4 linked regions of the Homo sapiens genome follow. The protein of the gene in region 1 interacts with the protein of each later gene in a biochemical or structural test. Each region holds a gene or a part of one and is shown in the gene's direction. Other genes may lie near its edges. The genes, in order: MMP2, TIMP4, SCUBE3 and PZP.

What was found.
Region 2: the proteins of MMP2 (region 1) and TIMP4 form a complex in vitro, tested with the Homo sapiens proteins (2 studies listed by BioGRID).
Region 3: of the proteins of MMP2 (region 1) and SCUBE3, one has a biochemical effect on the other in vitro, tested with the Homo sapiens proteins (one study listed by IntAct).
Region 4: the proteins of MMP2 (region 1) and PZP form a complex in vitro, tested with the Homo sapiens proteins (one study listed by BioGRID).

The regions. Positions count from the first base shown.
Region 1 is NC_000016.10:55,489,167-55,496,197, forward strand, and holds part of MMP2 (72 kDa type IV collagenase isoform 1 preproprotein), read left to right. Parts: intron 1-484; coding exon 485-658; intron 659-2,634; coding exon 2,635-2,790; intron 2,791-3,991; coding exon 3,992-4,127; intron 4,128-7,031.
Region 2 is NC_000003.12:12,155,900-12,162,883, reverse strand, and holds the start of TIMP4 (metalloproteinase inhibitor 4 precursor), read left to right. Parts: upstream 1-3,971; 5' UTR 3,972-4,043; coding exon 4,044-4,182; intron 4,183-4,292; coding exon of another isoform or gene 4,293-4,394; exon of another isoform or gene 4,395-4,992; intron 4,993-5,401; coding exon 5,402-5,499; intron 5,500-5,949; coding exon 5,950-6,064; intron 6,065-6,984. Other genes in the region: SYN2 (synapsin-2), read right to left, coding at 730-872, 1,276-1,338. UniProt on the Homo sapiens protein: Complexes with metalloproteinases (such as collagenases) and irreversibly inactivates them by binding to their catalytic zinc cofactor. Known to act on MMP-1, MMP-2, MMP-3, MMP-7 and MMP-9.
Region 3 is NC_000006.12:35,237,956-35,244,955, forward strand, and holds part of SCUBE3 (signal peptide, CUB and EGF-like domain-containing protein 3 isoform 1 precursor), read left to right. Parts: coding exon 1-63; intron 64-752; exon of another isoform or gene 753-1,796; coding exon 1,797-1,919; exon of another isoform or gene 1,920-2,418; coding exon 2,419-2,535; exon of another isoform or gene 2,536-3,185; coding exon 3,186-3,311; exon of another isoform or gene 3,312-3,587; coding exon 3,588-3,704; exon of another isoform or gene 3,705-3,850; coding exon 3,851-3,955; exon of another isoform or gene 3,956-4,248; coding exon 4,249-4,365; exon of another isoform or gene 4,366-4,666; coding exon 4,667-4,825; exon of another isoform or gene 4,826-5,065; coding exon 5,066-5,281; exon of another isoform or gene 5,282-5,638; coding exon 5,639-5,800; exon of another isoform or gene 5,801-6,007; coding exon 6,008-6,175; exon of another isoform or gene 6,176-6,475; intron 6,476-6,694; coding exon 6,695-6,856; intron 6,857-7,000. UniProt on the Homo sapiens protein: Is a positive regulator of the BMP signaling pathway, required for proper chondrogenesis, osteogenesis and skeletal development. It acts as a coreceptor for BMP ligands, particularly BMP2 and BMP4, facilitating their interactions with BMP type I receptors.
Region 4 is NC_000012.12:9,205,378-9,213,188, reverse strand, and holds the start of PZP (pregnancy zone protein precursor), read left to right. Parts: upstream 1-4,793; 5' UTR 4,794-4,847; coding exon 4,848-4,930; intron 4,931-7,811. UniProt on the Homo sapiens protein: Is able to inhibit all four classes of proteinases by a unique 'trapping' mechanism. This protein has a peptide stretch, called the 'bait region' which contains specific cleavage sites for different proteinases.

The DNA.
Region 1 (7,031 bases):
CTTTCCTTCTTCCCTTCCTCCAACAGGAATTTACTGAGCGCCTGCTTTGTGCAGCATACACAGAGGTTGGTCTCTGCAAAGCCCTGCCCAAGGGGGCTCACAGCTGAGGGGCATGTGCTGGTGCCATCAGCTTCATCCAACTCCCTTTGCCCCTAGCCCATCTGCCCCCTTCCATGGGAGGCTCATTAGAACTCTGGAATCTGGCTTCCTGGGTTTGAATTGCAGCTCTGATACTTCCTAGCAGTGTTGGCTTAGGGAAATTTCATCATCTCTCTGATCTATTTCCCATCCATGAAACGCGGTGCTATTCAGTCCCTCCTGCACAAGGCTGTTGTCAGGGGTGGGTGAGATGAGTCTAAAGATACAGTGCCTGGGACTGAGTCTAACTTAGGTGTGGTTCATTAAGGTCAGCGTCATGTCATTGCTTCCTGGTGGTAGCCTCAGACTCTTTGCTGCGCCTTGACCCGTATCCCTAACCCCACAGCCATGTCCACTGTTGGTGGGAACTCAGAAGGTGCCCCCTGTGTCTTCCCCTTCACTTTCCTGGGCAACAAATATGAGAGCTGCACCAGCGCCGGCCGCAGTGACGGAAAGATGTGGTGTGCGACCACAGCCAACTACGATGATGACCGCAAGTGGGGCTTCTGCCCTGACCAAGGTACGAGGCCCTGGTCATTGGACAGAGACCCTGGACATTGCCCTTGCCCCTAAACTTGCTCCAAAAACCTTCCTGAGACCTCACCCACTTCAAGCATAGACACTGCCCCCCAGACACCCACCTACCCAGACCCGCCCACCTGGGCTGAGACAATGCCCATCTCTGGTGGAGCCAAGGTCCCTGCTTAGATCCTGCCCATCCAGGTGGAGGCACAGCCTCCAAAATCAGACCCTGGTAGACCAGATGCTGCTACTCACCTCCTGGGTAAGAACTGGCCTTCCTGAGGGGTCACTGCTCTTGTCTTCCCCTTCAGCCACCCTCCAGGCGGGCTTGTGACTACCAAAATTGGCTGAATTCTGAGCACAGATTACCAGAGAGACAATTCTCCTAAGAGACATTCCCACTGCACAAAGAGGTGCCTTCAAGGAGCTGGTAGGCAGTAGAAGAAAGGAAAAAAGGAAGAGCCTCATGCTTGATCTGACACCATGGTCCACGCAGCCCTGGGGGAGCCCCCAGAGCCCTCTCTCCCCCATCAGTCAGCACCATCTGTTACCAGGGTGTAAATGGTGGGTCCTCGTCAGTCCTGGGTGCTGAGGATGGAGCTGACTGGGACAGCTCTCTGCCCCCTAGGACTCACAAGCTCAGGGGAGAGAGTGACCAGGAGACAGCTTGTGACCTTACTATGTGCTCAGTGCAGTGAGCAGGGTGCTTGGGGCCCTGTGCCCAATCTAGGCTACAGAGCCCAGGGTTGCAGGGTTGCTTAAAGCTCCCTGATGGCCCATAATGGCCAGGTCAGTGGGCAGGTCCAGGGCCTGTCAGAATTAGGCAAGCCTGTCTTTATGTTGCTTTCATTCTTTTTAATCATCATGAGATGGAACTTGGCAGATGTCAGTGGACAGAGGCTGGCCAAAGGAGGTTTTCTTATCCCCTGCTAAATTCCTTGCTAGGACACAGTCTGATTTTACCAGCTTAAAGGTGGGATTCTCCACCTTCCTGAGTGGTTCAAGTATCCAGAGCTCAGTGGCTCACCCAGGGTGAATATTATAGTCTCCTGGGGCTGCCATGACAAAGTGCCACAAACTGATGGCTTGAAACAAACCCCATGTATTCTTTCATGCTTCTGGAGGCTGGAAGTCTAAAATCACGGCGTCAGTAAGGCCATGTTCCCTCTGAAGGATGCGTCACTCCAGTCTATGCCTCTGTCATGACATGGATGGCCTTCTTCCCCCTCTGCTTGCCTCTCCTCCTTTTTTTTTTTTTTGAGACGGAGTCTTGCTCTTGCCCAGCTGGAGTGCAGTGGCATGATCTCGGCTCACTGCAACCTCTGCCTCCTGGGTTCAAGTGATTCTCCTGCCTATTTCCAAATAAGTTCACATTCACAGGTCCCTAGGGTTAAGACTTGGGCAAATCTTTTCTGGGGGGACGCATTTAACCACAACAGGGTGTGACACAGGTTTTGCTCGCTGGCTGTGGCTCAGCCTGTGCAACCACGCTAAGTGTGAAAGGTTTTTACTGCTTTCACCTGGGCAGAAATGGTGGCAACATGGGGCCAGCCTATCCCCACTCTTCTTACCTCTTCAGAGAGGCTGAGGAGCTGGGTTTGTAGAGCTCATCTTTTATAGAGAGACATAAAAAGCCAGGAAGCAGGATTTTAAAATGAATGGGGTTTTAAGTAGAAAATTCGCAGATACTACTTGTTCTGTTCCTTTATAGCACACCTGTCCTGATACTGACTTGGAAAGAGACAAGAAGACTTTGGCTGACCCCACTTGGAAACAATAGGCACTAATCCCAAAATTGTGTATTGATCCCAGAATTCTCAGGAAAAGAAAAAAAAAATCAATACATGCCGCTTCCAGGGTTCTCAGCCTTACTGTGGGGCTGTCCTCAAAAGTCTGCATCACTGGGTCAGGTCTTGACTTCTCTCTCATCTCTCTTCCTGTCTTTCAACCCTCTCTCCTCCCTGCAACCCTCAGGGTACAGCCTGTTCCTCGTGGCAGCCCACGAGTTTGGCCACGCCATGGGGCTGGAGCACTCCCAAGACCCTGGGGCCCTGATGGCACCCATTTACACCTACACCAAGAACTTCCGTCTGTCCCAGGATGACATCAAGGGCATTCAGGAGCTCTATGGTAAACCTCCGGGCGGGGGTTGGGGGTGGAGGGTGAGGAGGGGGGAGGTCATGTAGCCTGGGATGGAGGCCCAGGGGGTGGGACCAGCAAGATCTCATCCAGCCAGGAGTGCTGGAGACGAGGGCAGGAAATGGGAGTGTTGACCTGGTCTTGGGAAGGCAGAGCAGCTCTCCAAGGGGATACTTGGATAACTCTTCCCTATCCGAACAATGCTAATATCCATGTCACTCTTAGCGCTCCATTTCTGGGTTTCTCCCATTTTCTAGGTGAGTAAGGTCACCTGGTGCAAGGTTACACAGGTTTGAGCAACCCAGTGGAGTTTAGAATCCAGGAGAATAGCCAAGTACAGGACAGAATTTTCCATCATGTGGAATGACCTTAACAATACGGGGGTGGAAGTTTCTAGTTTTCATAATAAGCTTTGATTTTTAGTATGTAGTAGAAACAGAACAACCAGTGCCTTAAGCCAATTATTTATTTATTTATTTATTTATTTATTTATTTATTTATTTATTTATTGTTGGTTCTTACAGTGAGGCTAGAGTTTAAAAAGTCAGTTCATTTTTAAAAAATATTTAATGGTCCAGGTGATATCTGAGCCAGGCCAAAATAGTGAAAGTGGTGCTTGAGTGATGAAGTTTGGGGACTGCTAGACTCAGGAAAAAGCCCAAGGTCTGCCGTGAGGGGTGCTGGGTTCAAATGTGGCCTCTGCCCTTCACTAGCTGCAAGATATTGTGTAAGTCTTTATACCTCTTTGGACTCAGTTTCCTCATCTCTAAAATAATTGCTTATCATGAAAAGTGCCATACTGTCAGTTCTGGACACACCAGCGGCCCCCTGACCGCCCTGACTCTTGTGGGCATAAGAATCTGAGCTTTGGGTTTGAATCCTTGGGCAAGTCACTCAACTTTTCTGGGCCTCAGTTTCCTCACCTGTGAAATGGTGCAATCATGATACCCCACTCCCAGGGCTATAGAGAGGACTGATTTGGGTGATGTCAGTAAAAAGCATATATAAAGTACAAAGGGCCCCAGGACTCCCCAAGTCCAGGCATCTTCTTGTTACCTTACGGAGCTTACACTAAGGCCAGAAGGCGATTTCTTCTGACTCTTAGATGGTTGGGTGGGCACCCCTGGGGGCTCACCCTAGTGGGGAGAACCTCTGGAGCTGCAGAGAGTCTAAGGTCAGGTGTTCTCCCCAGGGGCCTCTCCTGACATTGACCTTGGCACCGGCCCCACCCCCACGCTGGGCCCTGTCACTCCTGAGATCTGCAAACAGGACATTGTATTTGATGGCATCGCTCAGATCCGTGGTGAGATCTTCTTCTTCAAGGACCGGTGAGTGCAGGAGCTTGCTTCTTGTCCTCCTTGTCTCCTGTCCTCTGCTCTTATACCATTATTCTTTTCCCTCACTCTTCGCTGAAGACTCCGCCAAATGCTTCCCAGAATGACCTGAATTAGGCAGTTTCTGCTGTGTATCAAACAACCTCCAGGTTTCAGTGGATTTGCACCCAAGCATTTTGTTTGCTCTCTCATAGTCTGTGGGTCTACTAGTTATCTTGACTTTCAGCTACAGTTTGGGTTCAGGTGTGCTCTGCCTGTTGTTCTCATGGGATTAGCAGCTACTCATGGCAGATGACAGGGTGCAAGAGGCCAAACTGAACTACACAAGCTCATTTAAAGCCTCCACTCACATCTTGTCTGAGAATATTCCACTGCCTGAAATAAGTCACATGGCCAATCCCAAGACCTACCCTAGAGGGTAGTACTGCAAAGTCACATGGAAATGCATATGAATGCATAATCCTAAAATCAAAATGGAGGGAAGAATTGGGAACCATAATTCAGTCTACCACAGGCCTTCTAGAATGGCGTTGCCCTCAAATGGCCAAATTACTCTGTGTATGGGTGGTGAGTGACTGCAGAGTAGAAAGAGGTGGTATTCTTCATGCTATAGATAAAGATCACCACTCAGTTGACTAAAGACTGAGGTTTACCCTAATGCCCTAGTTCCCTGGAGAATGGCAGGCAGTATCTAGGACCTCATTAAAGGGTCTGTCCTTCCATTCTTCTATCATCCATCCATCTACCCATCCATCCATCCATACCTATATCTTTCCATCCATCATCCATCCAGCCAGCCAGCCATCTATTATCCATTATTTATGATCCAGCCATCCATTATTCATTATTCATCCATTTATTCATTCATAGAGTATAGTAGTTGAGAAAATGGACTCTGAAGCCAGATTCTCTGGGTTAGAATTCTGTAACTGCTACTTACTGGTTATGTAATCATAGACAAGTTAATTAAGTATCTTCTTTGTACCTTGGTTTCCTCATTTATAAAATGGGGCTAATATTCCAACCTATCTCCTAGGGCTGTTGTAAGGATTAGATGAACTTAGTGCTGAGAACAAAAACAATGCCTGACACAGAGTAAGTGTATTCATATTAGCTATTGTTATTGACAAATAATTGTTTGGCATCTACTGTGCCAAATACTTTGCTAGGCTTTAGTAGCTGGAGGAGGAAGAATGATGTTCTCGGGACAGTGGGGTGGGGGGCTGCTAGATCAGTGTTCTCAAAGACAGGCGCATGGGCCTCCTATAACAGAACCATCTAGAGTGTGGGTATTAAAAGGTGGGTTTTCTGCCCCAGCTTCAGACCCTCCTGACTGGAACTCTGGGGCTAGGCCCCAGGAATCTGCGTTTTAGCAAATTCTCCCAGTGATTCTGATGCACATTAAAGTTTGTGCATCACAAGTCCAGTTTGAGAAATAGGCATGGAGAACTGACATGGCAAGATGAAAGAAAAGTGATCGCAGAGGTGTTAGGTGCTTTTGTGAGCACGTCCCAGTCAAGGAAGGCTTCACAGATGCAGCAGCATTTGAGCAGAGCCTTCAAAGGAGAAGCAAGAATCTGATGGGGGTGACAAGTTAGGAGGTTCTTTGAGACAGAGGGACCTGCAGAGCCAAGCCATAGTGATGTGAAAGTTTCTGGATTAGCCAGTGAGAATCTGGTGAGGCTAGAAGATGTTCCATAAACTTTCAGGAAGAGTTTCCTCTACTCTAGGCACTGGGCCAAATTCTGGGGTGCAGATGCCTTGCCCTTCACAGGGTCTGCTGGCCAATGGGGAAATGGCAAGAATGCAATGAGAGATGAGACTTAGAATGTAGTGAGAAATCAGGTCCCGTCAGGCCTCGAATGCCCAAATCAGGATATATAACAGCAGATGTCAGCACTGCTCTGCAGTTCCCATTGTAAGGATCTGGCAATGTGCTTCATCTGGAGCTCCTCCCACTAAGAAAGCCCTGACCACACATGCAGATCTCAGATGTGTGGGGCCTAGGAAAGGATGCAGAGCCCAGACCCAGGCTGGAGCCATCCCTGGCCTACCACATCACAGTTTTCTTTCAAAAGGAACGTGATGAGTGTTTAATGGGTTTATTTGATTAACCAGTAAATATTAAACTTCAACCATGAGCAAAAATTGCTGCTAGGCACTGGTGAGGGTGGGGGTCATGAAGGACAGTATTGCAGGGTGATTAAACTCAGACTTTGGAGTCAGATCTGGATATGAATCTTGGTAATAACTAATTTATTTAGTCATTGATGTAGTGATAACTAAGTAATTTGAATCCTAACCTCTCTGAGCTTCATTTGCTAAATAAAAATTGTGACACCTTCCTACGCTAGGATGTTTTTCTGCAAATAACAGAGACCATCCCTCTGCAAACTCAATCCAGCCTAAACAGTAGAGAGAAATTGCTTTCATTTGGTACAAAGTCCAGGGGTAGAGCTGCCTGCAGGGGCAGAGAGAGGGTCAGTGACTTGATGTCTTTGTCCACTGCTAGCCTCTGCACTTACTTCATCCTAAGGCCGGTTCTACCTCATGGTCACAAGAAGGTTACCAGTGGCAGTTGGGGCTCTAATCCCTGCCCTCTCCCAGGAAGCGAGAGAGAAAGAGACACGCACAGATACACACACACAGACCCCCAGATGTGAAATACAAGTCTGTGTGTTCCGTCTTTACACCACTGTAAGTCATATGGCAACTGCTGAATCAGTAACAGTGCTAGGGAATGCTAAACTCTGATTGGCTTAGACCAGTAGTTCTCAAACCTTGGCATGCGTTAGAATCATCTGGAAGGCTTGTTAAAACACAGATTCTGGGCCCCAAGCCCAGAGATTCTTATCTGTAGATCTCTGTAAGGACCCAATCATTTGCATTTCTAATGAG
Region 2 (6,984 bases), on another chromosome or scaffold:
GGAAAGTCAGGTAGTTTTGAAATCTTTTCCTTTACTAAATTCTAATGCAGGAAATTTTTAACTTTCCATCCTGGCAAATGGACACAGTTACAGAGAAGTCATGCACTGGGCTTTTAATGTTCTGTAGCATTTTTCAGTGCTGGATATTTATACCAGGAACTTTTTAACTTTGTGCTGTGGCAGTCTGGGGAAGCCTATGGATTCCTTCCAATGAACACAATATATAAGATGTGTAACTGTATAAGATAGAGTACATGGGATCCCAGAGCTACCCAATTAGAGTTATCAAAAATATTAAACAAATCTGTGATTAGTAAAATATGTGTTTCTAAGTAACAGGAGGTAGTGGCAAGCCTAACAAGTACCATTATTTTAAAGTAGGAATGAGAATAATCCATAGAGATATGTGTCTCAACTATAAGATCTAAGATCTAAGAAAATCAGTAATCACCTTTAGTGACAAACTCCTATGTACAGGTAACTAATGTAGTCTGTCGTCTCTGTTCAAAATGAAGAGAAAGCTAAATTTCCCTTAGAGGCAAGTGAAAATGAATATTAATATATTTTCTCATCTTAGTCCACAGACCCCTCCTCTGACTTAAAAGGAACCCAGGTAAAAAAATCTCTGACTTAAGTGGCACCCTCTCTGTTATCTGAGAGTTGGCTGCAATGTGGAGGCTCAGCTTTTCCATCATCACTGAGGAGAAAACATACCCCACTCTTACTCACATGTAAGCCTTGTAGTTGTTGCCAATCTTCTGGACCCGGATGTCATACTTGGAGTCAATGAAAGGCTCTGCAGTGGCATAGGTCTGGGTGAGAGCCACCACGCTGGCAATGTCCTGGAAGTCGTAGTGGTTTTCCACTTTGACCTAATGTTAGAGCAGGGCAGAAAGGGGGAAAGGGAGACACACACATACACACACTGAGAAGTCACAAGGGCCCTGAGCCTCCAAACCCACCAATATGTATCCGATCCAGACACTAATCTGGGTGCCACATCTCCCCAGGAGGCCCCTTCTCCCTAGCTTCCCTTCCCAGAACTCAAGGGCCACACTTGCTGCAAAGGACCCAGAGGACCAAGCAGGTGGCTTGCATTCTGCTTACTGAAAGAGGTCTGGTTGGGTGACACTCATGGCTTTAGAGGTGGCAAATCATCTTCTCTTTGGAAAGAATTCATCAGTGACAGAGGGAGAATAGCAGTTCACAAATGGGCGCTCTGAAAACTGCCCTTCTTGGTTCAACCCTGAAGCACAGCAGGCCTCTCTGCCTCACCTTGCCCATGCCTGAGTGAGCGTGGCCAATCTTCACCACCACAGGGAACGTGGGCAGTGTCAGCTGAAATCAGAAGAGAAATGAATAAACTGTCAGAGTGTGCCCATCTCTCCGTGGAATCCTACACATATTTTTCTTGGGAATACCCTTGGGAGGGTTCTTTAAAGAACTAGTCCAATCTACTTGCTTTACAGATTAAAAAACTGAGACCCATGGAATGACAGTGAGTTCCCAGGGTCACAGAGCATATTAGTGGCAGTGCTACAAGAACCCTGTACTCTTATTTGGTATACCCTACATCTTTAAAATGCACTGTCAATTTTCTCTGCATTAGACAAAACCTGGGCAGGACTGGCCCTCAGACAAAGAGAATTAAAAAAAGAAAGTATCTCTGAAAGAGTGAACTTTACTATATGTAGATGTACTTTAATAAACCTGTATTTTTATTTTAAAAACACATCTTTGGCATCTTGATGTCCCTGTCAGCATGTACCCTCTTGGTACCTACAACCTTCAAAGGCCCAGCTTTCCTGTAATGATCCTGGTTGTTTTCTCCCTCTTTCACACTCTTCACTGCTCACCAATACCCCAATCTCACCACCAAACAAGGCTTTGCATGTGAAGGCCCATTTCTTCCCAGCTTGGGGTTTGAAAGAGAGCCGGTAGAAGAATTCAGTATGTTTATAAATGCAGAGAGATCCTTAGGGGAGCGAACTCTACACTGAGGTAGCCATACTTTAACAGAGGAGCAACAAAACCTTAAAAGAAGGATTATCCTCTAAGGGCAAGATTTCAAGCTGCTACAAAATGGTGATGTAAGAAGTAATATTGTGGAGTGGAAGGAGCACTGGGCTAGATGTCAGGAGACGAGTACTCTAGTCCTCTTCTGCCACGGACTTTCTACAAGTCACTGTATCTCACTGGGCCTCAGCCTTCACATCTGTCCAATGAAGAGATCAGATGGGATGCTTTCTGAGCTCCCTTCAAATAGTACATCAGCCTCTATCTTGGTCTGAACATTGTATGAAGAACCAGCCTGGATGCTAACCCGGGCATTTCATCTTTCAGTCAGACTCAGCTCTCTTTCAATTCCCTTCTTTTCAAATATCACTAACACCATCAAAATGAAAAGGTATCCTTTGAAGGAAATAATGTTGACCCTGATGAAAAGTCAGACTCCTATGGGAACTAAGATTTGAACAGATACTGGGGGTATCTGGCCTGAGGATCTCAGCATTCCTGGTTGAGGCCAGCCAAGGATGGGAAGAAGAACTTCAAAGGGCTTTAGAAATCACGTAGTTCAACTCTACTTTATGAAGAAAAAACTGAGGCCCAGAGAGGCAAAAGTCACAAAGCTACAGTGACAGTCAGAATTGGAACCCAGCCTCCCACTATCCAGTCCAGCACCATGTGGAAACATCCCACAGCAATAATCCCATGGAGATTTGGGATTTGGAGGCTTGCAACACTGTGCCCAAACAGCAGACAAGGCTCTGGTCACAGTCACCCCCAAGTCCCCTGCTTCTTTGTTTTTTCTTTTACTTTTTTTTTTTTTTTTTTTTTTTTGAGACGGAGTCTCACTCTGTCGCCCAGACTGGAGTGCAGTGGCACAGTCTCAGCTCACTTCAACCTCCGCCTCCTGGGTTCAAGCCATTCTCTTGCCTCAGCCTCCTGAGTACCTGGGACTACAGGTGTAGGCCACCACGCCCGGCTAACTTTTGTATTTTTAGTAGGGACGGAGTTTCATCATGATGGCTAGGGTGATCTCGAACTCCTGACCTCAGGTGATCAACCCGCCTTGGCTTCCCAAAGTGCTGAGATTACAGGCGTGAGCCACCACGCCCAGCCTGCTTCTTTGTTTTCTAAGCTGTCCCACCTTCTAGAACATGACAGAGTCTCCAGTGAGAAGGGACATGCAATAAAAATCAATGTAGTCTAGGGCCTCGAGAGGGCTTTGAGGTCCAAGGTTTGCCCTAAGTGATGGGACACTTTGTGTTTTGTACACCAAGAGCGCTGTCTCCAGCTATCTGGAGAGTCTGAGGCTCTGGGAGTGAGAAAGGGTTTCTAAAGCACTGGCTGCTTCTTTGACATCTCTCCCCACCCCCCAGGCAACAGAGCCAAGACACACACACCCCAACTTTCTCTGTCCTGTTCTATTACTGTTTGCTGTTGCTTTGGAGCCTCATAAATAGGGCATTGAAAGCACTTCCTGCAGCTGAAAGAAGCCCTGAGTAGCTCGTCTCATTCCCAGCGTGCAGCTCAGCAAGGGGTCCGTCCTTCTCTGTCACTGTCTCTTTTGCCTGTTGTAATTCTGTCTGCCTCTCTGGGACTCTGCCTGTCTCACTCTTTCTGTCTGTGCCTCTCCTCACTCTTGTTCTTTCTGCCTGAATCACAGCCCTCAGTTTTTCTGTCCTCATGCATTTGTCTTTGTGGCTCTTTCCGTCTTTCTGCCCTTGACACCATCCCCTCTCCCAGTGCTTCCCCTCTGCTTCCAGATCGCTTCATGACTTAGGCAGGGAAACAGAGGTCAGGGCCTCCTTCCAGGCTTCCCTCTGCATCTTACTGAGTATGCAGGTCGGAAGAGCCTCGGGTCCTGCCTCCGCGGGTGGCCTAGAGCCAAAGGAAGGCGGAGCCCGTCGGGGCGGGATTGGCCCTTAGGGCCACCTCATAAAGCCTGGGGCGAGGGGCACAACGGCCTTGGGAAGGAGCCCTGCTGGGGCCGTCCAGTCCCCCAGACCTCACAGGCTCAGTCGCGGATCTGCAGTGTCATGCCTGGGAGCCCTCGGCCCGCGCCAAGCTGGGTGCTGTTGCTGCGGCTGCTGGCGTTGCTGCGGCCCCCGGGGCTGGGTGAGGCATGCAGCTGCGCCCCGGCGCACCCTCAGCAGCACATCTGCCACTCGGCACTTGGTGAGTCCGAGGTCCGCGAGGTCCACAGCAGGGGGTGGTTGTGGGGGATTAGTATCTGGCCAGCAGTACACCAGGAGTCCAGAGGAAAAGGGAGGAGCTCAAATTCTTACCGGTTGTCTCTTGCTGAGGCTGATGGGTGGAGAAGGACCAGGCGCCATAGCAACCTTGCAAGCCCAGAACCTGACTGATTCATAAGGAAATGAAGATTTCATCAGGGACTTCCATAGCGACCTCCCTCACTCCGGCCATACTGCAATTATGGAGTGTCATTACACAAGGTGTCACCGGAGCTATCTGATGATTATTCTGAACTACTAGACTGGGGACAGAAAGGGGAGGGGAGAGGGCTTGCATTGTAACTACCCGTGTCTGTCCAGGCCTATAACTGAGGTTGCCACCAAGCCCCTATGGCAACACACACGTTCTGTCCTTTCTCTTCCCTCTGCCTGGAATGCCCTCCCTCACACCCTTAAATTCCTGGCAGACTCCTACTCATCCTTCAAGGGCTAACTTAGGTCTCTCCCCTTCTCTGCAGGCTCCCGGGCTCCTTGGTGCCGCCTCAGCATCTCTAACCGTCTTAGCGCTCCTACTATGCTGTGCTGTTGTTCTTTACACGTGTGCACTCCACTAGATCAAGAGCTCGGCAGGATGGGGACCCTGTCTTAATCACATCTATGGGCCTAGTGCCTAGTGCAAGGCCAGGCACAGAGGAAGAACATCATCAACAGTTTTTGGTTATTAATGCTCAAATGGCAAGAGATGCAATACCTCAGTGCAGGGTCAGAACATTTATGAATTCAATAAACATTTACTAATATCAACTGTAGGCGGGATGAGAGGCCTTGACCACAGCAATAGATAAACTTCACACCGACTGCCCTGAAGGGGCTCCTCCTCCCTTCTCTACTCTGACTCCTACCCTGTGCCCCACTGCACAAACGGCTATGGAGAACTAGAGCTCTCCAGACTAACTGGTTCAAAAGGCAGAAACAGCTTAGCGGTTATAGGACCTAATAAGCCTGAGGGGTTTGGAACTTCCAGTGACTGCAGGGGAGGTGTTTCCAGGTCCCCCTTCTCACACATCACGTTGCTCACAACCCAGCCACACCAAAACCAAGAACTGCCCTATAGACTTCTTCATGGACCCTGGATCATCCAGACCTCAGGTGTATTGCCCCCACCAGCTGCTGAAGGTTCCCTCTTTTCTCTTCCTATGCAGTGATTCGGGCCAAAATCTCCAGTGAGAAGGTAGTTCCGGCCAGTGCAGACCCTGCTGACACTGAAAAAATGCTCCGGTATGAAATCAAACAGATAAAGGTACATGGGGGCAGGCTGGGATGTGTAGCCCCTAAGGCTGATGGAGAAAGTGGAGTCTGTGTTCTGGGAGGGCTGGTAGCTTTCAGGTGGCCTGGCTCAGTAATCCTTGGGTCTAGATACTGAAGTGGAACTGGATGAGATTTGGAGGCAGAGCCCATAGAATCCCAGGGATATTGCCAGGGAGGGCCTCAGCATCCATCTGGTCCCACAGCTGCTGGTGTATGGTGCCACTACAGGTACCTACTGGAATAAACCAAGGTTTAGGTGTTTTTTGTTGTTGTTGTTTTGTTTTAAGAGAGAAAATAACCCAGTAGGGACATCTGAGGACACAAAATCCTCAACTAGACTTTTGCTTACATTTTTAGGCTGAGAAGTGAGAGGTTTTTGTCTGTTAATATATACAGTACACTCACTGACCCAATATTGCCTTTTTTTGTAATTGCCTGTCAGATGTTCAAAGGGTTTGAGAAAGTCAAGGATGTTCAGTATATCTATACGCCTTTTGACTCTTCCCTCTGTGGTGTGAAACTAGAAGCCAACAGCCAGAAGCAGTATCTCTTGACTGGTAAGTTAAAAGACCAACAACTGGCCTTAATATAATAGATTCTGCCCTAGGGGAGGTAGTGAGAAAGGAGCCAGGGTCTTCCTTGGGCAGTAGGCTGAGCCAGGTGGCATTTTCTTGGGCATAAAACAGAGCTGTGTTAGTGACAGACAACCTCTGGGTTAGGAGGAGCCTTGTAACCTCCCTTTAAATGTAAGAGTTCTTAGTACAGTGACCCTGGCCACCGTTTCACTATTTTAAGGACAGGCTGCTCACCCAGTGTAGGGCAGCTGCTTCCGTTTTTCAAATAGTTTAAATTAGTATAAGATTTTTGGCAACTTGAGTCGAAGTCTCCTCTCTAAAACTGCTCCTTGCAGGTCAACTCTGCCTTTTGCACAGGACTTAACAGGAGCTTGAGTCTAACATAGTTCTGTCTCTGTGAACTTGGGCCCAGGCAGGATTCCTCCATACTGAATTGGCTGGGATAGAACAGTTAAAGAATCACACAAAAATATGACTCCATAAATGAATGCAACATTAAATTATTTTGGAGTTCAGAGAACGGAACTATTTGGTAGTTGTGAACTATCAGGGAAGCTTCATTGTGTAGGTGGGATCTAAACTGGCCTGAAAACATAAAACAATATTTAGAAAGAAAGCAAGGGAAAGAAAAAGCACAGCAGTGGGGGAGGGAACAGGTGAAGGGATTCCACGATCTATCCACACATTCAGCAATGAATGACCACTTAGTCACTGCCATGCCTTGGCCAGGAGAGTGGAGATTCAGTAACAAGGCACAGTCCTTAAAAGAGTTCACTGTCCAGACATGGCTCTTGATGAGTCATAGGCACTGGAGGCTACAATGATAAGGGCTTCCTAGCTCTGAGGATGTGGAATTGTACAGAACTGAGGAGCTCCTGGATGGAAGAGGCAGAGGCAGGACA
Region 3 (7,000 bases), on another chromosome or scaffold:
CTGGTGTCCACTGCACCTGCCCTGTGGGCTTCATGCTGCAGCCAGACAGGAAGACGTGCAAAGGTAAGGACTTTGAGAGGACAGAAGCAGAGTGACCTTTGGTAAGGGGCTGAGGTTGGGACCAGAGATAGGGTGCCTATTAGGGGATGACACCTCCTCAACCTCCTTCTTATGAAGAACCCAGGACATAGCTAAGGGTTGTCTCCTATCTGCCTGTTTCATCTCAGTTCAAGGGACAGAGAAGTCCAGCCAGTTCCTTAGTGCCCCCTTCCCCTACCCCACCTTGTTTCCCTACTCTCATTCCTATCCCCCATGGGTCCCTAACCCTCTTAGTTAATGGACATGCGATTCACATTTGCTCCTGGGTCTGGAAGGATATTTGAGCCCTGACTGTGTGTGTGCATGAGGTCACAGGTGTGTTCCATAACCTTCTTACCCCACATTCCTCAGACCTTCCCAGTGGGCTCTGGGGAAATGATGTCTACCCCTCGAAAGGCTGTACTGGTCAAAGGGAGAGTAGGATACTAGTTAGGAGGACTGAAGCTGGGTTCAGATCCCAGCCCTGTCTCCTACTAGCTCTGTGATCCTGGACAAGTCACTTAATGTCTCTGTGCCTCAGTTTTCCATAGTGCTCGCCTCATACTGTGTTGTGATTAAAAGAGTGATTACATAAAAAGTACTTAGAACAGTGCTTGGCAAATGGAAACACTTTGTGTTAACTGTTATTACAGTATAGTTACCCACATTATGCATTCTGTTTCCCTTCCTTTTAATTAGCCAGGTCTGAGGGAGAATGGGGGGAAAGGGTGGAGGAAAAAGGCAGGGTAGCCATACTGAAAATGATGATTCATTAGGTCCATATCCCCTGGTCACAAGGAGTGGGGACGAGGAGGACTGGGCTCGTTCTTTGTGTCTTTTGGCCCAACAGCTGCGAGAGGAGGGGGGAGGCTAGGGCAGCAGGTCAGCCAGCCAGAGTTGAGAGGTTTCCTGCTGGGAAGAACTGTTGACAGGTATGCTAAGAGTGAAGTGAAAGGCTGCCCTCCCTGCCCCTTCCCCCAACCAGGGGTGAGTAGCCTGGGTCCTGTCTGCCACCAGCTTGGGGAACTTGACCTCAGGAAGGAAGCCATTCACCAGCCCCCCTTTCCCTTACTAGTGCTGAAAGCTGCCTCAGGCCTGAGTCTCTCCAGATCTCTCCCAGTCCAGCCCCTTGCCTGGCCCCCAGCCCTCCCCCATCAGCTACCCAGCCTCACTGGCTCTCCTGGAGGTCCTCCCTGCCTGGCCTCTTTCCCAGCTCCTCCTCCTCCCTAAAGGGCTGCCCGTTTTCAGTGAGTCCCTTTAGACCCTCCACCTCTCCTTGCCCCGCACCCCCCCAACCCCCCGTCCTGAGGGACAGGAAAGAGATAACCCTTACCCACCAACCTTTCAGGGAATGGCCATCAGCTGGAGACTAAGGGCTAGCCTGTTAGGTCAAATGCCCACCTGCCCCTCCTCTAGGTAATTCCCTGAGGGCCTGTTCCTAGTTTTGGTTCCAATTTGTCCCCTTATAAGAACACTCAATCCCAGAAGAGAGGGTGTTACTAATGGCCACAGATCCCCTGAACAGGGAAGAAACAGAGACAGGAAAGAGAGAGAGAGACAGGAAAGAGAAAGAGAAAGAGACAGAGAGAGATCAAGAAGAGGCAGGCCCAGGACTCCTTGATTTTTGCATGTCTCTGTCAGTGAGGGAGGGATCTTTCTCCTTGTTTGTTCTCAGCCTTTGATAGTATCTTTTATCCTGTTTTGTCCTCCTTCTTCAGATATAGATGAGTGCCGCTTAAACAACGGGGGCTGTGACCATATTTGCCGCAACACAGTGGGCAGCTTCGAATGCAGTTGCAAGAAAGGCTATAAGCTTCTCATCAATGAGAGGAACTGCCAGGGTGAGCAGACTCAGCCAAAGGTGAAAGCCTTAGGAGAGGTTCTTGTGGGAGAGCTTCAAGGAGGCCAGAGGGCTAAAGTCTTAGAAACTCAATAGATATCACACAGAGTCTCTAGAGGCAGTGTCATCCTGCAAATTAGCAAATGGTACTCTTTCCCCTCAGCGGACTAGCTCCATATCAAAGCATTCAGCCTGGCAAGGACTGAGGGATGGATTTCACCCCAATTCATATCCTTGGCAGAGTAGGACGTACCTAACCACACATGGTGGGCCCTGACCTAAAGGCACCAGATCTTGCAGTTCCTAATTCCAAGGACTTCAAATAGAGGGGGCAGAGAAGATGGAATGGCATTGTTAAATCACTGGTCCTAGAGCTAGGACATGAATAGGAACTCTTCAGTTCAAGGGGGAAAGCCAAGGCCCCTCACTTGGGTCCTTCACCTGAGCAAGGGTCAAGTGCTCCAAGACAGATTCAGTGGCTTGAATCTTTGCTCTTCCAGATATAGACGAGTGTTCCTTTGATCGAACCTGTGACCACATATGTGTCAACACACCAGGAAGCTTCCAGTGTCTCTGCCATCGTGGCTACCTGTTGTATGGTATCACCCACTGTGGGGGTAAGCTAGTAAGCTTGCACCCCCAGCCACCCTGGCCCCCTCACCTCTTCACCCTCCAATTGAACAGGTCCTTGTGTTGGCTTGTGGCTATGGGCAATCCCTGGATGCATGCACCATGTCTGCATCCGCTGTGACAAAATAGGAGGAATTAAGACAGCTTTTGAAGAACTGGGAGACTGCGGAAACAGCATCCTGCCTCCAAAATTCCTATCTCCCATTCCTATAACTGTCCCTGAACCCCCACTCTCAGCTCCCAAATGACAGTCTCACTGGTTGGGAGGAGTGGAAGGCTTTAAAAAGCTTGTTGGCTTGGCCCCTTCTCGATCATTCCTTTGGGGACAGAGATAATTGGAGGAGGTTTGAGCTCTTCTCAGGCCAGTAGTCATCTTACAGTGCCTAGAATGCCTTTTTAACTTTTTTAAATTGTAAGAATATTTAACAAGAGATCTACCCTCTTAAGTTTTTAAGTGTACACTACAGTATTTATGTGCCTATAGGCACACTGTTGTACAGTAGATCTCTCGAACTTATTCATCTTGCGTAATGCAGGGTACCTGAAACTCTAACCAAAGGCCCTCACTCACTGCCTACTCTCCGGCTCCTCCTCCAACTCCATCGTTGTTTTTCTGTCTCCCTACTCCTTCCCCCAGATGTGGATGAATGCAGCATCAACCGGGGAGGTTGCCGCTTTGGCTGCATCAACACTCCTGGCAGCTACCAGTGTACCTGCCCAGCAGGCCAGGGTCGGCTGCACTGGAATGGCAAAGATTGCACAGGTGGGCAGTGCCCTCTGCTGGCCAAAGATGACACTGCCATTTCAGGGAGCAGTTGGGGTTCTGGAAAGCATAGAGTATCACATTGGGGAAAGGTGTGAGGTGGAAAGGGTGGAGAATGTAGCCATTTTGAGTTAAAGACATGAAATTTGTAGTAAACAATCCCATCATCAGTCTCCATGGGTACAACAATAGTTATGCAAGTAGCTGATTCCTCCAAATTACCCAACTGAGGGAAAGGAATGCATTCATTTGCTCAGGCCTCTCTCCCCTTCCTAGAGCCACTGAAGTGTCAGGGCAGTCCTGGGGCCTCGAAAGCCATGCTCAGCTGCAACCGGTCTGGCAAGAAGGACACCTGTGCCCTGACCTGTCCCTCCAGGGCCCGATTTTTGCCAGGTACATGGGAGGAGGGTGCTGGAGAGCTTTGGAGGAGAAAAGAGGAAGGACTGGCCGTTCAGGCAGCTCCTTCATTCCCCCTGGATTCCTCCAGCCAGCGGGGGTTGGGAAGGCAGGTCAGAACTGTGACAGGCTCCTTTTCTCAGAGTCTGAGAATGGCTTCACGGTGAGCTGTGGGACCCCCAGCCCCAGGGCTGCTCCAGCCCGAGCTGGCCACAATGGGAACAGCACCAACTCCAACCACTGCCATGGTAAGCACCAGCCCAGAAGCCCTGTTCCCACCCTACTCTCTTACATTAATCCCTTATTTTTGTTCTTCATCAATCCCCTGGCCTTCCTTTCTCCTGGATCCTCTTTTTTGCCCTGTAATTCTCCAACCCTGCTCCCTCACTCCCTCTGCCCTAACATCTGATCCCCTTGACTTTCATAATCTCACTCCCCCAGCCAAGCCCCTGGCTTATTACCCAGCTTCTCAACAACCCCTACGGCACCCCCGACCTCCATGGGCATCCCATACTGTGCTGAGTTTCTACCATCCCTCTAGAGGCTGCAGTGCTGTCCATTAAACAACGGGCCTCCTTCAAGATCAAGGATGCCAAATGCCGTTTGCACCTGCGAAACAAAGGCAAAACAGAGGAGGCTGGCAGAATCACAGGGCCAGGTTTGGACTGGGGACCCCATTCCAGTTGGCTGTCTGGCCACTAAATCCTCCTTACCCCTCAGCTCCTCTGCTTCCAAAAACCCACCAGAACCCTGAACTCTAGGCAGAGCAGAGGAAAAAGCAGCTGTAGGCATAGCACCCAAGGAAGTCCCAGAATATTCCCCTCCACCAACTAATTAGGACCCTAGACTAAAACAGGATTGAGAGATAGTTACAGTTAGAGATCTGGGGAGGTCTGTCTGGGCTGGGAGTGAGAACTTTCCAGGGGATGTCCCTGGGGTTGACAAGCCCTCTCTCCCAGGTGGTGCCCCCTGCTCTGAATGCCAGGTCACCTTCATCCACCTTAAGTGTGACTCCTCTCGGAAGGGCAAGGGCCGACGGGCCCGGACCCCTCCAGGCAAAGAGGTCACAAGGCTCACCCTGGAACTGGAGGCAGAGGTCAGAGCCGAAGAAACCACAGGTGGGACTGGGGGCACTGTTGGGAAGAGGACTGGAAGGGGAGGGCAGAGGTGGGGAAACCACAGGTCTCAGCAGCAAAAGGAAGGGATGGAGCCTGTACTAGGGGCAGACCCTGCCTGGTGCCAAGCCTAAAAGCTAGTCCCTCTTACCATGCCCCTCCTAGCTCCCAGCTTTGCTCCCCTGCCCTCCTGCTCACAGCAACTCTTTCTCCTCCCTGATACACACGGCCATCCACCACCAGCCAGCTGTGGGCTGCCCTGCCTCCGACAGCGAATGGAACGGCGGCTGAAAGGATCCCTGAAGATGCTCAGAAAGTCCATCAACCAGGACCGCTTCCTGCTGCGCCTGGCAGGCCTTGATTATGAGCTGGCCCACAAGCCGGGCCTGGTAGCCGGGGAGCGAGCAGAGCCGATGGAGTCCTGTAGGCCCGGGCAGCACCGTGCTGGGACCAAGTGTGGTAAGGGAGCTTACTGGGGAGCAGGGATGTAGGAAAGACCCAGTTTGGGCCTGACTCAGAGCAGGACCCTTTGTGGCCTCAGATGCATTTCTCAAATTATGAGGCAGCCAGGATGCTCCTGCCCGCTGTCCTCCCTTCCTTGGTTCCAGGCTGAAATCTAGAAGGATGCCAGGTGGGGCCAGCAATCCTCCTGCACACGGTTTTGACCCTCCTATCCCCCCAAGTAGGATTGTGTTTGTTCCCTGACAGAGATTCTCCCTGAATCGGGGGTTGTGGCGGGGAGTGGGAAGGGGAGTCCCAGGCCTGGGTGGTGGGAAATGCGGGGGTGGGTGGCTAGCGCGGCCGACTCTCCCTCAGTCAGCTGCCCGCAGGGAACGTATTACCACGGCCAGACGGAGCAGTGTGTGCCATGCCCAGCGGGCACCTTCCAGGAGAGAGAAGGGCAGCTCTCCTGCGACCTTTGCCCTGGGAGTGATGCCCACGGGCCTCTTGGAGCCACCAACGTCACCACGTGTGCAGGTGCCAGGGGAACAAACAATACAGAGTGGGGTAGGGTGGGCACTGGGATGCCCATGGGCATGGGATTTCCCAAAGGGCAGGCCCAGGCTCCAGGCCACTCTCTTAGTCAACATCCTGTTTGTATACCTTTGTCCCCTGAGATCGGGTGACCCCATGGGGATGACTCAGGACCATCCCCATCAGAGTTGGGCCCTTGATTCATTGCAGGTCAGTGCCCACCTGGCCAACACTCTGTAGATGGGTTCAAGCCCTGTCAGCCATGCCCACGTGGCACCTACCAACCTGAAGCAGGACGGACCCTATGCTTCCCTTGTGGTGGGGGCCTCACCACCAAGCATGAAGGGGCCATTTCCTTCCAAGACTGTGACACCAAAGGTGAGTAAGCTACTCACCTCCCTGGGGGATGCCCCAACCCCAACTACTCCCAAAAAACTCTCCAATTTCCCAGAGGGGACACTGACCCACCATTTTCTCCAAACCAGTAATGGGCCCAGCTACTTGACCAACCATACCATCCTGCTTCCAGGACCCACCCTGCCCCTCCACTAGTCCCAAGCTTGGGAACTGAGAAATAATTAACAGTCCCACTTACCCCTCCACTTTGGAGAACTGGTGGCATATTCTCCTCCATATCCCAAATGAGTTTCTATATAGGTTTGGCACTGTGCTCAGCGTCTGAAAGAAAAGGATTGGCACTGTAGCCAACCACTCTGTAAACTCTGTTTTTCCGTGGGCTTAAATTCTGGCATGACTGGGAAAGATTGAGACCCTAGAAAAGAACTTTGATGTATCTGATCTCCTGATTCTCCAGGATGAATGTATCCTGTCCATCCCATGCCCCGTAACTCCCACCTGCCTACCATCTTGATTCCTGCCCTTCTCCCTTGCCTACAGTCCAGTGCTCCCCAGGGCACTACTACAACACCAGCATCCACCGCTGTATTCGCTGTGCCATGGGCTCCTATCAGCCCGACTTCCGTCAGAACTTCTGCAGCCGCTGTCCAGGAAACACAAGCACAGACTTTGATGGCTCTACCAGTGTGGCCCAATGCAAGAGTACGTGGCAAGCCAGGCTGTGCAAAAGGGAGGAGAGAGGCCTGGGAGCAGTGGACATCTAAAGGAGGGGTGTGAAACCAACAGGGAGCAGGGCTGGGGGGTGGAGGAGCAGGAAAACTCCACCTTCCACCTCTCCCCAACTCA
Region 4 (7,811 bases), on another chromosome or scaffold:
ATTGGAATATTGTTCAATATCGTTCACTCATGTAAAGGAATGAAGTACTATATATATGCTACAACATGGAAGAACTTTGAAAACATCACGCTATGTGAAAGAAGCCACACAACATAGGCCACATATATTATGATTCTATTAATATGAAATGTCCAAATAGGTAAATTCATAAAAATATAAAGTAGATTAGTGTTTGCAGAGAATGCACGAATTAGTATTTCTACTTGTTGAAAATAGGAAGTGACTACTAACATGTATGTAGTTTCTTTTGGGGGTGATGGAAATGTTCCATAATTTCATAGTGGTAATAATTACATAACACCATGAGCATACTAACAGCCACTGAATTGTACACTGTAATGTAATAAATGTTATGTAATGGGAATTTGTGTCCATTTAAAAATTGTAAAAAATAGCCAACTATGGAAAAAATTTACTGGTTTTTTTTTTCAGATTCAATGTTATAAATGAAGGAAATAATTTCCTTTCCTGCAAACTTTATTGCACATTCATTCAGATTTTCTCTTTCACTGTCCCATTTCACATTCTGGAAAAATCAGATATTTTAAGACAAAACTACTCTTTTCCTCATTTGGAAAACATTTGTCCTATTATCTTGCATAGACAGTTATGTTTTTTGTCACTACTGTTTCTACCATGGCCTCAACTATACATATTAGTTATAACATTTAATGAAAGAAAATAACTAACATAAAAAAACTAGAAAAGATGATTGGCTACTTTCTTTCTTATACAGTGAATCCTAAAATGGCCTTGAAATCTGGTACCAGCTCCTCTATGATGCAGTCTAAGAGCAGTCTTGCCCTCACAGGGACCTAATGGGAGAAATGCTCACAAGTGCCCTGGTAGGCTGAACTTGGTCCCACTGTGGATCTTAAAACAGCACTGTATACTGGCTCCAGGCCCTCTCATCTGTGATTTGAGAGCAGGCCTGCCCACTCAGGGACCCAGTGGGACACATGCCCATTCATGAACCCAGAGGCAGGCCTGAAGACCTGGGTCTCAGCTGTAGGCCCTGAGGCAGCCCTGTTACTTGGTTCTCTTTTCTCTCAGCTGCAATCTGGACCAGCACTGTCTGCCTAGGAACCTACCCAGTGACCCAGTAGGAGCCCTCCTAAGGACCCAGAGGAAGCCACATTCATCCACATATCTCGTAACTAGCCTACAATCTGTGGACTCTAAAGTAGACCCTCATCCCAGTGCCAGACCTACTGACCAAGGTCTAGGAGGCAGTCCAATTTACCCAGGGAACAGACAGAATCTAAGCCTACTAGAGCCCCAGTTAACAGGCCTGCCAACCACAGACCTCACTGTTGACCCAGCAAAACCATGTGACCTGGCTCTACCTCCAGTTGACCACAATTCTGGAAGCAATCTTGTCAATCCTGGGAACCCAACAGGAGGATCCTGAGGATCTTTACCTGTAAAACCAGTCTATAAAGATGGGAAAAGGTGTTTGCTCCTTCAGATGCATAGAAACCAATGCAAAGTTACACAGATAATGATGAACCAGGCAAACATAATACCACCAAAGGAAACCAATGAAGTTCCAGTAACTAATCTCCACCCCAAATGGAGATCTACAAATTTCCCCCCAAAATTCAAAATAATCATCTTAAAGATGCTCAGTAAGATGCAAGAAAACACAGATAGACAACTAAATAAAATTAGAAAAACAATGTATGAACAAAATGAGAAGTTTAATAAAGAAATAGAAACCATTAAGAAAAAACACACAAAAATTATATAAGAACAGAACTGAATATTTTAATGGAGAGCTTCAACAGCAAACACAGTCACACAAAAGAAAGAATTAGTAACTTGAAGACAGGTCATGTAAATAGTTAATTAAAGGTGAAAAAAGAAAAAAAATTAAAGAAGAGTGAAGAAAGTATAAGGGACCTATGGAATACCATCAAGCATGCAAATACACATATTATGGGAGTCCTAGAAGGAGAAAAGAGGGAAATGAGCAGAAAGCTTATTTAAAGGAATACTGGAAGAAAAATGTAAAAGCTAGAGTATTGGTGGCAATATGGGGATACGAAAATCCTCATGCACTACTGGTAGAATTGTGGTGTGATGCAACCATTCTGGAGAGTTATTTGTCACTATTTAGTCACTTAAGTACATGCCTCTCATACAACAATCTCACTCCTGTGTATGCGTCTTGCAAGAGGATTTACCTGTCTCAAAGGGTATATGTAAAAAGATATTTATCAAAGCATTATTTCCTCATGGCAGGACAATAGAGACAATCCTGTTTTTATCATTAGGAGAGTGGAAACATTAAACCTCTTGGATGATCACCAAAGAGGGCTATACTGTAATAAAATGCAATTAATAAAATACATACATATAAACATATAAACATGGGAGGATGTTTTAAAACTAGCAATAACTAAAAAGAATAAGAAACAGGCAAGGTCTTTTTCCAATACTCTTTATATAAAATAAAAATACACACTTAAGACTTTCCTTTCCAGTAATGGTATACAAGGTAATTGAGACCAAACTTCCCACTTAAATTAGGAATGGTTGGTTATATATATATTCACTGGAGGTATTGAAAAGCAAAGACTGTGAAGAATTATGAATCCAAAGTTCAGAAGCAACATAGCAACCCAAAGGGGCAATTCTGTGTTTAAGGGCACTTTCCCCTTAGGGTATTTAACAGCTCCAGAATATTTGGCTGAGAGATTTAGAAGCACATTTTAAAGCCTTTAGTAAATAAAATTGCAGCGTCTAGAGTCCAAGGCTCATGAAACTGGGGCAAGGAGATGTTCCTGATAGACCCTTTACATATTGTGTTGAGATATCAAACTGATGGTAGAATTCAAATGGTCCATAAACATATGAAAAGATGTGTAAAGTCATTAATAATGAAAATTAAGGCAAGATACTGCTTCACTCATCAGATTGATAAAAAGTAAAATGCCTAGCAGAGTAAAACGATGGTAAATATATAATAAACTGAAAATATCCACTGTTGCAGATGGGTATTCAAATCCATGTAATACTCTGAAGAGCAATTTACCAATCTGATAGATTTCAAGATGTACATACATATATAGCCTATAACCCAATCTCTGCTATATACCCTAGAGAAAGTCTTGCAAATATGCTTAAGTAGACATACCGTATTTGTAGCAGTATTATTTGTAATGTTGAAAACTATGAAGAATCCAAAATTCAGCACTAGGGGAATAGAGTAACAGGTTCGGCCACATTCATACAATAGAATGTCGTATAGATGGTCATTAAAATTAATAAATTTTATCCTCATTATCAATGCTAATAAGTCTTAAAACCATAATAGTGATGACATATTTTACAATATGTGCATACCACTTATACATATAAAATACAAAACACAAAATTATGCTATATATTATTTACATAAATATGGATTAAAAACATAAACACATCTTGAAGAATACATATCAACTTCCTAATCCCACAACATTGGAAGGGAAATGAGATTGGAGAGAATTACAAAGGAAACTCCAACCATATTTGTCTTGATTTATTTCTTTTTTTGGGTTGGTGGATCTGGTAAAAACTGGAAAAGCTTCTAGACAAATTTTAAAAGAGCACTACCATTGCCATCTTTCATTTCTTAAGAAGAAATGACCTTAAACAAACTTGGCAAGTGTTTAATTTTATTAAAGTTGGGTGCATGTAAGGTACGAGTGTCTTTTATCTTGCTCTCTATATTTGTGAGTATATATATATATAACATTTCATAATTTAAAAGAAATTATTTCATTCTATGATAATGTGACAAAAGAAACAAAGATGTGAAATAAAAACTAATAGGAAGGAATCCACTTTCAGCAGTGTGGCCAGGAATTTGCTCTCCAAAGAAGGGATGATTAGGCTGAAATATGGAGAAAGAGAAAGAAAGTTGATTTAAAAAGTTTCAAGCAATACAGTATGTAAACAGACACCAATGTCTGCAGTCTAAGGATGGCATTAAATCTGCTGGTGGTTTATATGTGATCATCATTGTACTACAAGTTCTATGAGAGCATGGATACTGAATATCCTGTTCAATATTGTATTTTCATCACCAGAATAGCACTTAGCACACAGTATGGCTCAAAAAAAAAATCTCAGATAAAGTCAATGACATGGTTTAAGGGACTCAAACGTTAGAGTGCTCAGACAGTAACAAGGACAGATAGGATCAACTAAGAATCTGATCAGGTCAATGCTGTGAAATAGACAAGTGTGATCTTTGATAACTCCTTTCTAAAATCTCTTTGATCTTTTATCTCTTTTATCTTTCATTGATCCTCTACTCTTGAAATCCTTATTTTATATCACTTTCTTCCAGGACCATGTACTCAATCAACTGCTAAAAAAGAAAACCCAAAAACCCTAAAGTCTATAGTTATAACTCACTCAGTCCCAGAAATGAATCTGCAATGCATGAGCTACTATCATGGTAACATGTCCCTGACATTCTTTGTCAGCATCCTTTGTCACCTGCTTGTAAGGATTTTGAAAGAGATGGAGAAAGGTAGGTTGAAGGTTCCTTATCAGGAGGTTTGCTGTCAAAGCTCATTCTAAATGGAATACAAATTTTATCTTCCAGACATGCCTCAGTACCTATCAGAATTTAGCCTTGAGAAAAATGAGGCAACCACTGAGAGTAATGACCCTTTTAGGGAATCTGTGCTCAATTCTGAACTCTATTCAGAGGCCTTGGGGTGGGGCTTGTTTGTACATAGTGGCCACATAAAGCCTGGTAAACTCAGCTGGTCTCCAGGGCGAGGCTGAGGGCAGAGAGTTGGACACAACCCTGAGATTTATCCCTCACAATGCGGAAAGACAGACTTCTTCATTTATGTCTTGTGCTACTTCTTATCCTGCTTTCTGCCAGTGACTCAAACTCTACAGAACCGTAAGTCTCACTCAAGACCCCTTCCTCCAGAGTGCGTTTCAGTCTCTCCCTTGTGTCTTCGCTTTGCCTTCCTTTGTAAATGCCACCTTTCCACTCATTACAATACCTTCCAAATATAAGAAATTATTCCAGTTAATCCCTTGTTTGTCTTTCATTTATCCTCTATTCTTGAAATCATTTTTTCTACACTGGGCCAATCAGAGTCATAAATACGATTAGTCACTAGGAAGCATGATTAAATAAAACACTAGATCCCAACTTCACAGAACAGTTCTTTTGGATGGAAGGCACTGAATATAGAGATATTCGAAATATATAGTGAAGTGCAACTTAACATGTATTGTAGGCCATATATATATATACAGAAAGTATAGCTCCTTTATTTTTCAATCATGTATCAAGTCTTCACCAACAGCCCCCAGTGGGGGACCAAAGCAGGGAAAATAATTTTAACCCTATCCAGTTGTAAGTTGGTACAACTCAATAATTGTAAGACTTCTTTTCCACCTCTCCCCAGTTCCTCTCCTCTATAGTGTCTAGAGAACTGTGGTCTCCATTAACTCCTAATAGAGAAAACTGTCAGAGTCCTTGGTCTCAAAGTTCTCCGTCCTTCTTGGCTACTGTCAGTCTGACTTCTCCTTACTTGCTGGCATGCACTGTTGAAGTTTAGCCATCTGGTTTCTCTTGTGTGTTCAGGACCCAACAGTCCTCTCTAACTGACTGTCTCACTTCAGCTGTTTCATATCCCATAGAACTCCTACCTTTGCATCCTGCCTCAAATACTATGGCTATTGTTTCAACACAGCCTGTGATGCAGGGTCACCTTGCCCCTTTGCAGTCCAGGCCATTTAAGGTCCCTGGCCTTAACCCAGCTGCCTTTACATTTCTTCCAGAGAATGGTGAGAACTCTTGGGTCCAATAATAGCACATAGGCACTGAGGTGTCCTGGAGAGGTTAAACTTCTACCTCTCTCTTGCATACCCACACTGCACTTCTAGATGCCTATCGTGTCTCCTGTATTCCAGACTGATACAGGGAAGTCTTCAGAGTCCCAAATCGGGAAAGGGATAAGGGGTCCCTCTGCTCTGTGTGTTACCCTTATCCATCTAACACAAATAGCCTTCTTCAGGCCAAAGCGCAGAAAGCAGAAATAAGGAGTTCAATCCAGTAAGTCTCCTGCTTTCCTCAGGCTTTTTCCTTGCACAATTTCCTGGCAACCGGTAGGGGTACATTTCTCCCCCACTATCCCTCTACCTCATCTACAGCAGTGGGCTCTACTACTTCCAGCTGCTCTCCATCCAGAAAGCATATGGGAATATGTGGAGGCTATTTTGCTTTCTGAGAGCAGACTGAATGGATAAAGCGAGTAGCGTGTATTGGGTCAGAAACATTAAGCAATTTGTGGTTCTGGATGCATTCCTACACTACATTGGACCATGCTGCCATTGAAACCATCCTTTTACGTTGTGTCTGCCACTGAACAAAGAACAACAAGCCTCATGCCCTAGTTGTCACAAGCAGAAGGGGTGTTTTCTCCCTTTATAAGGAGAAAACTTAACTTCATCCCTCCAGAATTAACCCTTGATGTGATAAATGTGAGAGACTACAAAAGAGAACCAATAGCCATTCTCCCCTGCCTTGGGGCAGTAAGCTTCAGAAAGATGAAGGTTTCAGGGGAATAAAATGAAAAAGAGAAAATTAAAAGTTATCACTTTAATATTTGCTACATTTAGTCCCTGCTAAAGAGGCAAATATTTAAAATGCAAACATTCATGATTGAGTAAACATATATTAAAACATTTTAGCAGCTCACTACCAATGACATCTTGGGCAAGTTTGTCAACCTGGATTTGTTCTGATTTCAATATCTGTTAAAAAAATATTAACTGAACTCATATAAAATAGTTCTTTAGAATATCAAATATATGTGGAATTAATTTTTAATCGTGATATCTTTTAGGCTTATAATTTATAAGAATAAAAATAGTAAATAAATTATAAATATATATATACCTTCTTATTAAGATCAAAGAACTAAAGGAAAAATTTTTTGATGGGGATGTAAAAAATGATACATTTTTATTATTTATTATGCTGTTAAAAGAGCAGTGATCAGGAGATCAGAAGCATCCAGATACCAGAAAAAGATTAAGACATAAGAGACTAGCTGAATGACTATCAGTGAGTTACTGAACTGCCCTCAGCTTCTCTGCTAGAGAACAAAACCTTACTACTCATACAGTAAAATCATCTGAAACTTGGATGATTTCAGAGTGGCCCTGGAGATTCATGGCATATAGTTTTGCCCAGGAACACTTTAAAACACATGTAGCAAGACTGGTGTGCTGGAGCAGACTACATGGAGGATGAGGGGACCAAATTTGAGTTCCACATTCCACAACTCAATTATCCTTGGATTCTCTCCTCCTAGTCTCACACCTATTAATTTTGTAAAGCAACAATATTGGGTTTCTTGTGTCAAATTGCCTGTCCAGAAAACAATTTAAAAAGTAAGAGTTTATGTTGGCAATGGAAAGTAAGGGTAGTAAAATAATATAAGAAAATAATAGTTTTTACTTGCAAATTTACTCTATAAATGGCCTAACCCTGCAGATATTGAATCATGAATCACTGAATCATTAAAGCTTTGAAGAGTTACATTTTAGTCACAATTTACTGATTTTACTGATTTGGCATGGGGGCAGGGATTTTATCTATCTGTTATGGATTCAAGTTTTGGGGACTGATGAGGATCTCATGTTTTAGCTTCCATGAACATGGAGAGTATCATGCATGTACCTTACAGCATTGCTGGGAAGATTAAATGGCTTAATACAGAGACAGCTTAACAATTCTTGTCATGTGGCAGATGCTCAAAAAC